Linked DNA regions of Homo sapiens. The protein of the gene in region 2 interacts with the protein of the main gene of each other region in a biochemical or structural test. Each region holds a gene or a part of one and is shown on either strand. Other genes may lie near its edges.

The links.
Region 1: the proteins of PATL1 (region 2) and DDX6 form a complex in vitro, tested with the Homo sapiens proteins (one study listed by BioGRID).

The regions. Positions count from the first base shown.
Region 1 is NC_000011.10:118,753,076-118,756,901, forward strand, and holds part of DDX6 (probable ATP-dependent RNA helicase DDX6), read right to left. Parts: intron 3,249-3,826; coding exon 3,185-3,248; intron 2,429-3,184; coding exon 2,327-2,428; intron 1,813-2,326; coding exon 1,637-1,812; 3' UTR 1,630-1,636; intron 1-1,629.
Region 2 is NC_000011.10:59,659,038-59,662,863, forward strand, and holds part of PATL1 (protein PAT1 homolog 1), read right to left. Parts: intron 433-3,826; coding exon 215-432; intron 1-214. UniProt on the Homo sapiens protein: RNA-binding protein involved in deadenylation-dependent decapping of mRNAs, leading to the degradation of mRNAs. Acts as a scaffold protein that connects deadenylation and decapping machinery.

The DNA.
Region 1 (3,826 bases), about 59 Mb from region 2:
TCGAGTGCAATGGCATGACCTCGGCTCACTGCAACCTCTGCCTCCCAGGTTCAAGAGATTCTCCTGCCTCAGCCTCCTGACTAGCTGGGATTACAGGCGCCCGCCACCATGCCTGGCTAATTTTCTGTATCTTTAGTGGACACGGGGTCTCACCAGGTTGGCCAGGCTGGTCTTGAAGTCCTGACCTCAGGTAATCCACCCACCTCGGCCTCCCAAAGTGCTGGGATTACAGGTGTGAGCCACTGAGCCAGCCCAAGTGGCTTTTTTTTTTTTTTTTTTTTTGAGATGGAGTCTAGCTTTGTCACCCAGGCTGGAGTGCAGTGGTGCGGTCTCAGCTCACTGTAACCTCCACCTCCCAGGTTCAAGTGATTCGCCTGCCTCAGCCTCCCGAGTAGCTGGGACTACAGGTGCGTGTCACCATGCCCGGCTAATTTTTGTATTTTTAGTAGAGACAGGGTTTCACCATGTTGGCCAGGATGGTCTCGATCTCTTGACCTCGTGATCCGCCCACCTCGGCCTCCCAAAGTACTGGGATTACAGGTGTGAGCCACCGCACCCGGCCCAGAGTGGGTATTTTAAAAAGATGGCCATCCTCATAATCTGATTAAACATTTGCTAATAAGGTATTATGGATAGTTTTATCAGAGTGATTAATGTACTTACTAGAAATTAAGAGTAAATGCTAAAAACATTTTACATTTTCAGAAATGTAAATACTTTCATATTCAAAACTGCTGGCAGTGTGGTGGCTCACACCTGTAATCCCAGCCTCCCTTTAGGAGGCTGAGGCGGGTAGATCACTTGAGGTCAGGAGTTCAAGACCAACCTGGCCAACATGGTGAAACTCCAACTCTACTAAAAAATACAAAAATTAGCTGGGCATGGTGGAGCATGCCTGTAATTCCAGCTACTTGGGAGGCTGAGGTGCACCAGAATCGCTTGAACCTGGGAGGCAGAGGTTGCAGTGGGCCGTGATTGTGCCACTGTACTCCAGCCTGGGCAACAGAGCAAGACTCTCAAAAAACAAAAACAACAAAAATCCCCCCTACAAAACTGTCAAAAAAGGCCAGGCACAGTGGCACAGTGGCTTGCGCCTATAATCCTAACACTTTGGGAAGCCAAGGCAGGAGGACTGCTGGAGTTCAGGAGTTCTGGACCAGCCTAGGCAACAAAGCAAGACCTTGTTTCTACCAAAAATTTAAAACATTAGGCAGGCGTGGTGGCATGTGCCTACAGTTCCAGCTACTCAGGAGCCCAGGAGAACCAGGCTGCAGTGAGCTATGATTGCACCACTGCACTCCAGCCTGGATGACAGTGAGACCTTGTCTCAAAAAGAAAAACAAATTGCTGAAAAACATTCTTTTTTGCTTTCATTATTTTAGGACTCTGAATTTAAGTACTGCTAATCTACCACATTACCCGGGAAGCTGCATTCAAGAACAACATTTACAGATTCTCGAATGAGACTACAACCTCCCACAAGAGATATTATTTACTGTCATTTATGCTAGTGGGTATTTTACCCTTTATTGCTATTATATATGGTGTGACATCAAATTTCCCCCAGGAAAGAAGATTTTGATTTCCCTCATTTAAAGGTTCCTCTTAGCTGTTCTGTCAGGGACGTACATGCTTGTTAAGGTTTCTCATCTTCTACAGGCTCGCTGTGGTATTCTGCCACATACAGGCTCTTATCAATGTTGCTCGGAATAGGTTTAATTTCTGTTCCCAGCTGCTCCTCAATACTTTTCAGGTTGAAGCGATCATCATATGTGATCAAGTTGATGGCTAAGCCAAGATGACCAAAGCGACCTAAAAAACATGCGTTTAAAAATTTTAATGAATAAAATATGAAAATCAATGTGAATTGTGCAAGTCAAGCAGTGGCAAAACCACACAGGATTGATAATGATGTTCAGTGCCATTCTTAGTATGCAAAACAACTTCTTAATGGTCTTCAAACACAGGTTTCCCTACAACTTCAGGTTTCGCAGCCCAAAATAGTACTTCATTTCACCTTTCTCAAATGACAAAATGGCAGTCAAAACTGCCATAAAATACACATTAAACAACAGTCACAGAACATACCACCTAATGAGTGAAGTTCTCATGTGTTAATTTCATCTCAAATTAAGCAGTTATTTTAACTTTTCTTAATAAATGCTACAGAAGAATTAGAAATTAGTCTTAAATACCAAACAACTGAATTACTGTTAATTCACTGTTCTCATAGCTACTGTACTCTATTTCACAAAAGAACAAAATTTAGTCATTACACGCCTCAAAAAAGAACTTCTACCAAGAATATCACCTCTTTTTTCCTCACCTGATCTTCCAATACGATGGAGATAGGTCTCTGCCAGCTTTGGGAAATCAAAGTTTATTACCACATTCACAGCTTGTATATCAATACCTCGGGTAAACAGATCTTAAAAAAAAAAAGATAATTTTCATTTTTTCAATTTAGAAATGTCTCTCAGTACAATACTAACACATATTTCTAGCATAACCTAAGTTTATTAATTTAATTCAGTTATTCAAATGCATTTGCACATTACTGGCATTACCTTTCATAATCACATTATCATAAATAACTTTCTGCTCCCAAGTTACTTTTTTCCAGTAATTGTAAGCAAGTTTTAAAAAATGTGTCTAAAAGAGGCTGGGTGCACTCAAGCCTGTAATCCCAGCACTTTGGGAGACCAAAGCAGGAAGATCACCTGAGGTCAGGAGTTCGAGACCAGCCTGGCCAACATGGTGAAATCCCTGTCTCTACCAAAAATACAAAAATTAGCCGGGCTAAGCGGTAGCAGGCGCCCACAATCCCAGCTACTTGGGAGGCTGAGGCAGGAGAATCACTTGAACCCAGGAGGTGGAGGTTTCAGAGAGCCAAGATCGCACCACTGCACTCCAGCCTGGGTGACAAAGATTCCATCCCCCTCCCCCCCCCCCCCAAAAAAAAGACAGAGATGAGGTATGAGTGCCAGAGTAAGTCTTCTAAAGTTTCAGATATGGAACCCAGTATCAGGAGCTGACAAGAGTTCATTTTCAACTTCAGAAATCCTAGAAGTAGTGGTAGGGTGTGTCGGACTATGTCACAGGTTGCACTATGTAATATGAACAGAGAAAGCAAAAAACAACTTGGGAGAAAAACACTGGGTAAAGGAAATACAAAAATACTTACCAGTGCAAACAAGATTGCGGCATAAGCCATTTCGGAAATCATGAAATACACGATTTCGATGTTCCTAGGAGAAAGCAATGTATTCCATTTGATTAACACTCATATACAGCCCCAAATTTCCCATAATTATTTCTCCCAGACGATCAGTTCTACCCAAAATCTGTTTATAAGTGATCCATGATATTAAGCTGCTTTCAAAACCAAATGAGTTAAGTTCTTGATATCTTCGTCTACAGAAACTGTTTACTTACGAAATTTCATAATGTAGTTAACAAAAAAGTCATTTTTGTTACAGTTTTAAATTATTTTTTGCTAAATCAAATTCTGAAATTTAGATATTGTATCTTTTTCTAAAGGCAAACAGTAAAGAAAAAAAGAAAAATCAGCCAGCTGAGGGGCCATATTTAAAAATCCAGAGCAGTGCTGTCCAGTAAAACTTCTATAATAAAGGAAATATTTGTGTCTGTACTTCCAATTCCAATACACTATCCAGTAGCAACAGGTGCCTAACTGAGCACTTGAAATGTGGCTGTGATTGAGAAACTGACTTTTTATTTTAATTTTAACTGATTTAAATTGCCACATGTGGCTATTTACTGTATTAAACAGAGAATTAAACATGGAAAGGAAGGGAAGAATAAA
Region 2 (3,826 bases):
TCAAGCTGCTTTAGAATACGAAATTATAGGGCTCCAGAATATACATTATTCCCCAAGTTTATCTCTAGAACTTCTATCATCAGGAAATATATTATCAATTTTCTATGGTATATGTAAATCTCTCATTATAATAGATAAAATAAAATGGCAAAGTTCAATACTTCACTTTAATTTTTAGTCTGCTATAGTTCTCAAATCACAGTAACTTACTTACTTGTAAAACTGGCCTGGTCTGCACTGCCCTCATAATAGCTGGATCTTCTAGTTCATTTTCAATCACCATCTTACTGAGCCTTTCTGCCAGATTCTCCTCATGGTCACCCAACAAGTCCATTTCATCTCTCTCTCCATTGCCTGTTTGTTCATTAACTGCCACTGGTAGCTTTTCTTCCAATTCAGCCAGGCGCTCATGTGCTTCCTGCCAATCATCATCTATAAGATGACACAGTTCATGTAAGAAATAGTTCATAGTGGTACAAAAAAGTTTTACACAATTATTGTTTTTTTTTTTTTAGACAGAGTCTCACTCTGTCGCCCAGGCTGCAGTGCAGTGGCGTGATCTCGGCTCACCGCAACCTCCACCTCCCGGGTTCAAGCAATTCTCTGCGTCAGCCTCCCAAGTAGCTGGAGTAGCTGGGACTACAGGCGCCCACCACCACACCTGGCTAATTTTTGTATTTTTAGTAGAGGTGGGGTTTCACCATGCTGGCCAGGCTGGTCTCAAACTCCCGACCTCAAATGATCCACCCATCTCGGCCTCCCAAAGTGCTGGGATTACAAGCATGAGCCACCACGCCCGGCCTACACAATTCTTCTGCTAAGCAAATGAATAATTCCAGAAGATAGGTAGAAAGTTAAGTTTACACTTAGAAACAGGAAATAAGGTTTAAACTAAGGGACACGTAAAGCATGCTTTTTATAAGTAAAAGCAAATAACATTATACCAGGAATAAAATTCAAACATGTGAATTAATAGCTTAAAACATTATCAATAATGTCCAAACTATATTCTGAAACTGTTTCCCAAATTGGTGATAGATATGTATAGTACTACTAGTTGGTTTTGAGATTCTATGACATTTCAAGCAAAAACTTTAAAGGGAAGTTAAAACTCATAGCATTAGCATACAACTTCCTCTTAGATTTTAAGTGCCACATTCTTTACATGCTTTTGAATCCATTCGTTCCATTCAATTAATATTTGGTAAGCATCTATTATGTGACAAGCCCTGTTTTAGACGCATGGGATACATTGGTGTACAAAAAGACACAGAGATTCTGCCTTCATAACACTTTCATGCAAGCAGGAAAGAGAGAGATGATAGACAATAAGCATAATGATTAGATACTATACCAGAAGATGAAATTGCTGTAGGAATATAAAGGAAGAAAGGCAGATTGAAAATTTAAATAGATGGTCAGAGGTAGGCCTCATTGAGAAGATGACATTTGAGCAAAGATTCTAAAGAGTAAGAGGGTTAGCAATTTGGATATCTGGGAGAAGAGGGTTCCAGGCAGAGGGACAGTCAGTATAAAGAAAGGCCTTAAGGTGAGAGATTGATGGTTTTGAGAAACGGCAAGGAGGACTGTGTCTGGAATGGAATGAGCAGGGTGGGGAGAGTAGAAGAAAATGAGGTCAAGAAGTCATGAGGAGGGAGCTCATTCTGGGCCACTATGATTGAAATGGGAAGCCAATGGAAATTTTCATTTGGCTTAACTTTTAAAAGAATCACTCTGGCTGCTGTGCTGAAAACAGGCTAGGGAAGAGGAAGGGGCATTTCCTCTTTTATCTTAACTATGTCTGCTATTACTGCACACTACTATAAAGTCTGTAGCACTGACATTAAGGTTGTTTCTGCATTTGGTATGTTGGCATCATTTTTTCTGTTTTGGAATCCCATTACAGCACAGATTACAATCTTCAGAACCCTCTATCAGCTGCTCTGGAGCTAGACCTTACTTCCAACGCATCTCACTCCAGTTCTCTCCAATCTTATTCCATTCTGCTTCCATCATGAAAGCTGTACTCACAGTTTTGCTCCATTCAGTATTTTTATTTTTATTTTTTGAGACAGGGTCTCACTGTCGTCCAGGTTGGAGTGCAATGGCGTGATCTGGCTCACTGCAGTCTCAACCTCCCGGGCTCAGGTGATTCCCCCAACCTCAGCCTCCCAAGTAACTGGAACTACAGGTTTGTACCACCACACCAGGCTAATTTTTATATTTTTTGTAGAGTCGGGGTTTCCCCATGTTGCCCAGACTGGTCTTAAGCTCCTGGGCTCAAGCAATCCACCTGCAACAGCCTTCCAAAGAGCTGGGATCACAGGCTTGAGCCACTGCCTCTGGCCTTTCTTTTCAGGTATTCAAATGTGAAACTTCTTCCTCCTCCTCAATGGAGCTACTCCTAAATAATCCTTTCATTTTATTTCTTCCTTTACCTCATCTCTATATGCATTACTTTCTAACCCACAAAAAGTATTATTTTGTATATGTTATATGGTATTCTTTTTTTAGTTACATCCTTTATATGTTTTATAAAATTCAACAGACAGGGATAACAGGTTATAACCAACACAGAAACAGAGACTTTCTTTTTTCTGCTTTCAGAGAAAATACATGTTTAAAAAATTCAAACACCATAAACACATGTAACTTAAGTGAAAGTTCCCCACAATTCCACAGCTGTGTTAAGTTTTAAACAGTTTTAAGCTGTGTTAAGTTTATAAAGTTAACTTGTTTCTTTTTATTTAAGCAATATGTCTTGGACATCTTTTCATGCATGCACACAGGCATAACTACTGATAGTAACTCATTCTTTTTAATACCTACATAAGATTGCATTTTATTGCTAAACTATAATGTAATTTATCCCCTACTGGTAAACATTTGGATTATTTACAATTTTCCAATATAATAATTAATACTGTAATAACATCATACATATCTTAGCATTTTATGTGACTATTTAAATAAACTAATTTCCTTTTAGAATCAGATTACATTAACAGTTAAAATTTGCTATATATATGTAATTTTTAATCATACAACGATGTATCACATAATACTAGTGATCCAAAGAGTGAGGGAAGTGGGACTTTCAAATATATAATTTTGGTATCATAGGACCCACTGCCTAGTTTGGTTGATTTATGTATTAGTTGTGGTAAGGGATTCCTTAAGTTGTGGATCACTGTGCCATCACTGGGATAAAGACTGTGGGCAAAAGCTATAAAAATATCCTTACTTAAGCCTCCGGGACATGGGTCTTCTTTATAATTATGTGGTATTTTCTTTCCCACCCAATAGTTTCCTCTTACCTGAGTGACTAGTCAGGTGGCACTCTTCCTCTAAACTGTCATCTTACAGAAAAGAATTTAAGGTAGCCATTTTATGATGATGGTCTCTGATAAGCCTATCCTGATGTGCTCCAAAAAATGGAAAAATCCACTTTAAATGAAAATTACAGTGTTAATTTAAATGACTAGTCATATGAAAGAAAATATTTAAAGAATAATGTAATTAAAAACCAAATGTGACATTCATATTTGTGTCATCCTTGGTAAGGAACAGTAAGCTGGGACAGGATAAATTGTTTTTTGCAACTTTACTAACTTAGCAATGCCACAAGAGTGGGAATCTATCATCCTGAATTGAGGGATTTGTAAAAACATTTACTTCCCAAATTTAAGAAGTTAATTTGTTAGTGGATTTGTTCTAATGCAGTAGAGTTCTAATTTGCATGCTTTTCTATCACTACTTCCAGTATTCATGCTTGCTAACTTTACCAAATCCTATCAAATATGGATAATCTATTTCCCCTTAATAA